Homo sapiens: one gene and its partner. The protein of the gene in region 1 purifies or fractionates together with the protein of each later gene. This does not show direct contact. Each region holds a gene or a part of one and is shown in the gene's direction. Other genes may lie near its edges.

Region 1 (4,563 bases):
TGCAGACTGGTCTCCACCAGCAGCTTTTCTGAGTCTCCAGCTTGCAGATGGCAAACCATGAAACTTCATGGTGTCCATGAGCATGTGAACCAATTTCTATTATAAATCTGCAATATATATATATGAGGAGACTTATTTATATATTGGTTCAGTTTCTCTGGAGAGCCTTGGCTAATATAAAGTCTATACTCTACAAAGTGCCCTAGGTACTCAGGGAGTACCCAAGTGTGTCATGACCAGCCCGACAGCCCTGGCTGCTGGCTTCCCCGCACACAACTCTGCACGCTGCCTTCATCAGCCTTTCTCTCTCAGCTGAACCGAGGGCATTGAAGCGGGCCTCTGGCACTGTACCTATGAGGGAGCAATATCTTCCCCTACACTGACCTCTTCCGTGCCGAGATGCAGCCCTCCCTGCTGCCACTAGTTACAGTGGTCCATGTTCCCTTTCAAAGTGAAGTTTTGATAAAAGCACCTCTTAACCAATGCCAAATAGCTAAGTCTGGGACAAAGATTGCAGGTATTTTGCATTTTCCATGTAACCTCAGAGGGATTGCCATTCACACTGATCTGAGCTGCAGAATACCAGGCAGCCACCTCACCCACCCAGCAGGTCCACTCTTATACTTTCTCAGAAAGCACAGCCACTCTACTCTTATTCAGTTGAAAAGAATTTCCAGGAAGGTGTTTCTGCGATTGCCTCAGAAAAGTCAGTTCCCTTTGGGAATTTCCCTTAGGGATCATCTGTAACTCCATTTCTGCCTTTTACCTGAATTCTTTGGTTTGGTTTGAATTCTTTGGTTTAATTTATGAATTCCCTTTATTACTTTTCTCTGAAGAAATGGAGATATCAGCTGTCCCTCCCCACTGCCATTTATTCCTTCCTTCATTCAAACCTTATGTGGCTGCTACTTACCGTGTGTTAAGTGTTCACTTTTTTTCTTGGAATTCAAAAAAAGAAGGACAGTATTTGGGGCACAGATCTTTTGGTGTTCTATACATTTTTTTAAAGTTTCATTTTACATTTGTGTGTGCGTGTGTGTGTGTGTGTGAGACAGTCTTGCTCTGTTGCCCAGGCTGGAGTGCAGTGGCATAATCATTGGCTCACTGTAGCCTCAAAGTCCTGGGCCCAAGCAATCTTCCCACCTCAGCCACCCAAAATGCTGGGGTTACAGGTTTATGCCACTCTGTCTGACCTGAAAGTTTTGGGTTTACTTTCCCTTCTTTCTCTTTGCTGAAGTCAGAGATGATGGCAGCTTCCAGATTCTCTGGTGCCTGTGCTGGGCTCGTGCTGGTCATGGTCTTGGGTCCAGGATTCATTCTGGAGACTCTCAGGGAAGTTTCCCATGACAAGGAAATGTAGGAGAGTGTGCTGGCTTTGCGTGCTCCTCTGCCAAGCCCTGCTTCTCCTGGTGGGACACACTGAACCACAGCCAGGGCATTTTGGTGGTTAGTTAAAAAAAAAAAAAAAAAAAAAAAAAGGAAGAAGAAGGCACTGTGTAATTGTGCCGGGGATCTTCAGAAATTGTAATGATGAAAGAGTGCAAGCTCTCACTTCCCCTTCCTGTACAGGGCAGGTTGTGCAGCTGGAGGCAGAGCAGTCCTCTCTGGGGAGCCTGAAGCAAACATGGATCAAGAAACTGTAGGCAATGTTGTCCTGTTGGCCATCGTCACCCTCATCAGCGTGGTCCAGAATGGTAAGGAAAGCCCTTCACTCAGGGAAGAACAGAAGGGGAGATTTTCTTTGATGGTTGTTTGGAAGTCAGGCTTAAACAATTGTGTCTGTGTGTGCGCATGCACAAACACTTTTACCTTATCTTTATTTTCTTCTTTTTATTTGAATGTATAGGGTTGTGTGTATTTCTGTGTAAATTTGGGGTTTTCCTCCTCTTAGTCTTTCACTTTTGTGGTGATTACCAGTCCCATTTTTAGAGCCAGGGCTGCAACTTGAAGGTTTTGCTAAAACCCTCACCGAAGTGTCTATGATCAGCATTTTAACTATTAATTAATGTGGCCAGGCAAGGGGTGGAAGGTGAGAAGACTAGAAAGGGAACATGATATACACATTTACTCAGATACTGGGCTTTTCTAACATCTGCAGTGCAATTGAAGTTACCAGTCATCTGCAGTCTAAAAAGAAAGTGATTTTGGGAGGTGCGTAGAAAAAATCATCTTATTATTTTTCCTCTATATTACTTTTTTCTTTTTTTCTCCTGAAGAAACTTTTTTTTTTGGTGATACCTTCTTTTTCTCTAGCACGTATAATTTTGGAAGCATTTTTCATATGCAGTGTATACTTCAGAAAGAGAGAGAGAGAGAGGAAAATTGTCCTGTTCAGCGTTTGCATTTCCATTATTCCTGCTATTAGTTAAAAACAACAACAACAACAAAAAACAAGCAGGATACCTAGATCTGGAAAAGGGAGAATTGTGTAGAGCTGTCTTCCTAAAGTTCTGAGTTAGGGCTGCCTCAGACCACTTTCATAACTATCTCCAGTGGCTTTGTGTTTTATATTTATTAAGATAGAGAAAAAAAGAGTAATTACTAAGGGCAGCTGCTGTAGCTTTATGGTGATTACTGAACATTGACATGCTGTCACGTTTTTGGAACTTTGAGTATTTAATCACTTTGGGATATTCTATTTTCCCCCATCTTGAGTGTGGACAGATGCTGGTGATGTAGCCTTCTGGGCACAGAGCAAGCCTCCCCCTCAGCCTCTGCACCAGAAAGGCTCAGCTTCACACACTCCAAGTATGTTTTCTACAAGAACTACACTTTGTGGCTTTCTGACCCAAACATTTTTATACTAAATTACACACAACAAAGTTGTAGCTCAGAGAGGGAACAAATGGCTTATTTAGGCCACCATTTTCTTGAGCCATTATGATTTCACACAGGGCTCCCTTGGCCCTGTAAATTGGCAAGGATTCCATTATTCAACCCGCATACATGTACAGAGACCCTGCTCTGGCCCAGATAGTATTCTGGGTACAGGCGGATAGAGCAGGAAACAAAACAGCTACAGTGATGGACAGGTCAGCCTGCAGCAATGCCTGCAGTCTCTGCAAAGGTAGCTGTATGGGTGGGCAGGTGGCTAGCACTTATTCAGCTCTGGAAGGATCTCCCCTCTGGCCTCTCCCCTGACACCCATCAATAAAACTGAGGAGCATCGGTGGACAGGGGACCTTGTGCCCCCTCCCTGCCTGTGCAGTTGGGGCTGAACCCAGCTACGAAGTTTGAGCTCACTCTCTCCAGCTCCCTCTCAATTCAGAGCTGAACTGTGGGAAGCTTCAGAGCTCTCTGTTTCAAGGACAGGTTCTCCTCACCTCTCCTAATGGAGGTGCACCAGGGAACTGGCCCTGCTCTGCCCAGGGCTTTCTCCTGGACTTTGCCATCATGGTCTAGCAAACCCTGTTCAGATTGAGGTGAGTGGTGAGATTTCGAATTCTTTTTGACAGATAGGATTAAGTCTTCTTCTGTGGGACAAGTGGGAGGTAGAGGTAAGATTAAAGATGGCCAAATGTCTGAGTCCTGACAGCCACAATATGGAGATCTAGACTTTTTACAGACCACAGGGCACAGGGGCCTCACTAACAGAGTTCCCGGAAGTGATGAGTGTGCTGGGGGCTTCCTGGTTGAAGAGACACTAGAATGGACCAGCTGGGAGCTAATTTTTTGGGCTGGAGTGTGATGGCCTGCACATCACTGCCTCTGTCCCTCCATTGTCACAGCTGCCCCTTAGGAGCCAGCTGAGGCAATTTGTGGTCAGAGTGACTTTGCACAGTTGTCCTGCCTGTGTTCAGGAAGGGAGTTTCTGTGGTCCCTTTGAAACCACAGAAGAGCCCCTCGTATAGCTCTCAATGGAGGGGGCAAAACATTCAAATAACTCAGGAGATAACACAACTATTTGTTTTTAACTGTGAGTTTTTAGGCAATCACAAAGATCCAGATGTATGTCCAAGCCTCTCTTTGCAATTCTAATTAACCTCAATGTTGCAACCATAGACCTACCTTACAGAGTTCAAAAAAATATGCAAAAACCCTGCCTTTCTTCTTCCTCATACCCCAAAATGCCATTCTGAACATTTCCTGTTAGTTAAAAAAAGATTTCCATGGTGTTACCAGGCACTGTACACAGTCTGTGTCCCAAGACAAGGAGGTACAGTTCCACATGCGCCCATGACTGGGTTGGGCTCTGCACTCTCTCTATACTTTGAGAGCCTGATTTTCTGTGATTGGGCAGAGCTGGCCCACCTGGTGCAATGTCCTCCTCTGCCTTTCAAACATGTTTTAGTCATCAAGATCTTCAAATTTGTAACCCTTTCCAGCTTGATCCAGCAGAATGCAGATTTGGAAAAACAGAACGAGTTTAAAATACATGATTCTAAGAAACCTGGACCAGAACTATCAAAACTTGGTTTCCCAGAGAATATAGCAAATGGGCTCATTGGCCAATACTATGACATTGGCTTTTGAGAAAAGAAAGGCTTTATTGCAAGGCTGGCCAGCAAGGAGACAGGAGTTGGGCTCAAATCTGTCTCCCCAGTTTGGGGCTTAGGGCAAGTT
Region 2 (3,817 bases), on another chromosome or scaffold:
ATCACTTTTTCCCATTTAGTATTTCTTTTCTTAACCTATTAAAATTAATTAATTGTTTGCCAACCTTGTAAACCTGCTCTAGAAGAGATAAAGCTGCAACAATAAGAGTATAAATTATAAGTGGCCTGATGTTGATATATGAATTAACAATAAGCCCTTTCCATTTTCATTCCATTATGCTTCTACTATATTCCTTTATTCTTAAGAGTAGAAATTTCTATTTACTGGTGGCTTAGAGCTGTTCAGCAGTTTCTTCTTCTTTGTGTTTTTTTAACATGTAGGTGGATATGGATTATGTGAAGGGAAATGAGGCTTTTTTTTGTAATTTAGTTTTAAATGGCTAAGTGATAGAATATAGAAAGAAAGAAACAAATACAATTATAATTTGTATTTACTATGGTCGTATACAGAACTTATAGAAAGTAATTATTTGTGTCAGTGTTAAGACTTCATTATCTTATAGAATGATTTTAATTAATATACAAGCATAAAATATTTACAGTCTCACTTAACGTTCCTTATTATATAAATCACATTTAAAAAATAAGTATTTTAACTGATTTTGGTTTTTTGTTCATATGATGGTTATTTTTGAAAAGGTCAGTTGGAAAAGTTAACTTTAATTTTATATTGTTTAACACAAAGGAGAAAAGAAATCAAGTCAAAAAAAAGAAAAGATAAAACCAAAAAAGACTGTGAAGAGTCATCACATAAAAAATCCAGATTATCTTCTGCAGAAGAGGCCTCCAAGAAAAAAGATAAAGGTAAAAGGAAATTAAGATAAGGCATCTACTCACATTTGTGAGCATGAAATATAATCTGCCATATTTCATTCATCTAATTGGTGAATGCATTGAGAATTTCATTTTATGGTAGTTGAGAGGAAACTGGCTGAGAATTTAGATATGAACTTAAAGTGACTTACAGGAGTTTTAAGAACTCCTCTAAATTAATTAAGGGTTAATTTTAGTTCATTTTTGGCAGATAGTATAATATTGCCAACAGTTTTCTAATTCCTGGCTTTGTCACCTACAGACTTGTTACTTTGCATCAGTCACTGAACTGCTTTATTTTTCTTATGTGTATAGGGGTGAGGTGCATACCTGGCCTTCATACTGGTCAAGCTTATTGTGGAAACTCAAATAAGAATGTGAAAGGGACTTTGATCAGTGCCTTTAAACAGTCTATAATCTATAAATCAATATAAAATTGTAACACTGATTTTATTTATAATGGCCTGTGTGACTTTTTTTACTAGTTTATGAGTTTCTAGAAATGAGAAAGATTGTCATATATCTGTGTTCTCAGAGCCTAGCATGGTGCTGTGCACCTATACTTAGAACTGCCTGCTTTTTCTTTAGCAGTCCTTAAGCTCGCTAAGACTCAATTTCTTCATGTGTAAAATGGTCTTGATTCCTTTTAGAATTGTTCAGAAGTTGAAACGAGATAATTCATTAAGCAGTTTGCATAGTACTTGGCACATATTAGCTATTATGAAGGTTACTTCTAGTTGCTTTTTTTAGCCCATAATAAAGTAGAGTCAATCGGCTGTAATTTATAGTGAATCAGACTAATCTAGATAGGTAATTGAATTAGATTCAAGCCAATGTTAATATAATATTTGGACAGGAGAGGGCTCTCTTGCTCCAGCTATGAAGATCATTAGCTATGTTGCATGCTTAGAAGCATTTACTTCTTCTTGCACATGGTAATATATTCATTATGTAGCAGAGTTTAAATCTGTGTGCCCTTGTGATACTGTCTACTCCCATAGCTTCAAGTATATGGTGTCACCAACCTTTAGACTTCGTAAAATTGATAGATGGTGAGAGGAAGATATTGTTATTTTATTGCTTATTGAGAGATGGCATTTGTAGCAGAATGCCTTTTTTGTCTCTATCTTAATTATTTTCCACTCTAAGGTAAATTTTAACCAATAAATGTTAAAAATATGTTTTGAGTTTTAAAAACTTATTTATCCTTATATGCTAGTAAAACATTTAATATGTCACTTAAGAAATTTGTTGCCCTCATTGTATTATATGTTCATTCTTATCACAACTGTGATACCATGTTAATCACTGCGTATTCCAAATGAAAGAACTAGTCTCTACTTTATAAAATGTTACTCAGTACAATCAAAGTAGATCAGGTAGATGAATGCTCAGGTTCAGGGCTAAGGTTGGACCCTTCGTATTATGCGTACATATGCACATGATCTTCCTTATAGACATTTTTCCCTTAGTGTTCTGTCAGTAGATGACACCTATGTTGACCTAAAAACTAATATCAGAAATCTGGGGATTATCCTTGATACTTTCTTTCCCCTTATTATTTATGTTTAATTTGTCACCAAGTCCTGTGAATTTTACCCCCAGAGTATATATTTCTCAAGTTCTCTCCACCCTACTACAAACCACTATATTTTCTCTTATAGGCTACTGTTATATTCTCCTTACGGGTTCCGCCTCTGTCTTGCCATCCCACCTTCCCTCCTCTTAATCCATTCTCCATAAATCAGTGATTTCCTGTTGTTTTTAGGCTGATAAGCAAAATCCTGGACAAAGCTAAAAGGTTCTCTGTGATCCAGAACTTGTGTACTATACAAGGCTTGTTTCTTACCACTCTGTACCTCACGTTCACACTCCCCCCATGTAGCCTTTCAGTTTCTGGAAAATGTCAAGCCTCTTTCAATTTTAGGGGTTACATGGATGCTGTGTCTTCTCTTCCTAAAACTCTCAGTTCTATCCCAGCTCATCCTTCAGGTCTAAGCTCTTAAATGTCATTTCCAAGGATCCTTTCCTGATTTCATCCCCCACCTTGAATCTAAATTAGGACTCTCATTTGTAATGCTGTCATGGCTCCTGACACTTTCCATTATTACACATATGACGATGTAAAAGCCAAAGAGGCAGAGATTCTGCCTGCTTTGTTCATTGCTATATCCCCAGCACCCCACTAGCTCATGTTCAGCATAAATAATAATCAGTAAAGGACTTTGAAGATTCTTCAGGGATAGAAGACCAAAGCAAGGTGGAATTGAGACATCTCTTTCTTATGTATTCTCTATTTAGAATGCCTTTGAAAGCAAAGTCTCTAGAAATATAGCTTTTTTACCCCCAACTTCTATGGTATATAACAGAAAATAACAAAATTTTAGCAAACTTTTAGGAAAACCATGTGGAACTCTTTAATATCTTATCTGGGATCATCTAGAATTAGCTTTATCATTGATTTGATTCTTTCTTGCCAGACCACCTTAATTTGGACCAGACTTGAAGAGTAATTAATAAACGCTTAACATCTCAGCTGCGTTTGGACTGTTGACAACTTCCTTTAATTTTATTTCTATCTTTCTGGCCTCTCTTTAGCTAATGCTTTTTTTTTTTTGTAAGACAGGGTCTTGTTCTGTCACCCAGGCCCCAGGCTGGAGTGCTGGAATACAGTGGCATGATCTTGGCTCACTGCAGCAGGCTTAACCTCGGAGGCCCATGTGATCCTCCTTTCTCAGCCTCCCAGGTAACTGGGACTACAGGCCTGCACTACCATACTCAGCTAATTTTGTTGTTGTTGTTGTTGCAGAGACAGGGTCTTGCTGTTTCCCAGACTGGTCTCAAACTCCTGGCCTCAAGCAATTCTCTCACCTTGGCCCCCCAAAGTGCTGGGATTACCAGCATGAGTCATCACACCCGACCTCCTTAGCTGCTTTTAACTGAAGTTCCTTCTCAGTCTTACATTTAGCTGTTAGAGTTCCTCGGGGCTCTTACCTAGATTTCTCTAGTTTCTCTCTGTACTCCCAGTGTAATCCCATCAACTC

What was found.
Region 2: the proteins of ALOX5AP (region 1) and FRA10AC1 purify together in Homo sapiens (affinity purification with mass spectrometry; one large-scale study listed by BioGRID and IntAct). This does not show direct contact.

The regions. Positions count from the first base shown.
Region 1 is NC_000013.11:30,733,982-30,738,544, forward strand, and holds the start of ALOX5AP (arachidonate 5-lipoxygenase-activating protein), read left to right. Parts: upstream 1-1,561; 5' UTR 1,562-1,569; coding exon of another isoform or gene 1,570-1,624; coding exon 1,625-1,694; intron 1,695-4,563. UniProt on the Homo sapiens protein: Required for leukotriene biosynthesis by ALOX5 (5-lipoxygenase). Anchors ALOX5 to the membrane. Binds arachidonic acid, and could play an essential role in the transfer of arachidonic acid to ALOX5.
Region 2 is NC_000010.11:93,678,427-93,682,243, reverse strand, and holds part of FRA10AC1 (protein FRA10AC1), read left to right. Parts: intron 1-645; coding exon 646-764; intron 765-3,817. UniProt on the Homo sapiens protein: May be involved in pre-mRNA splicing.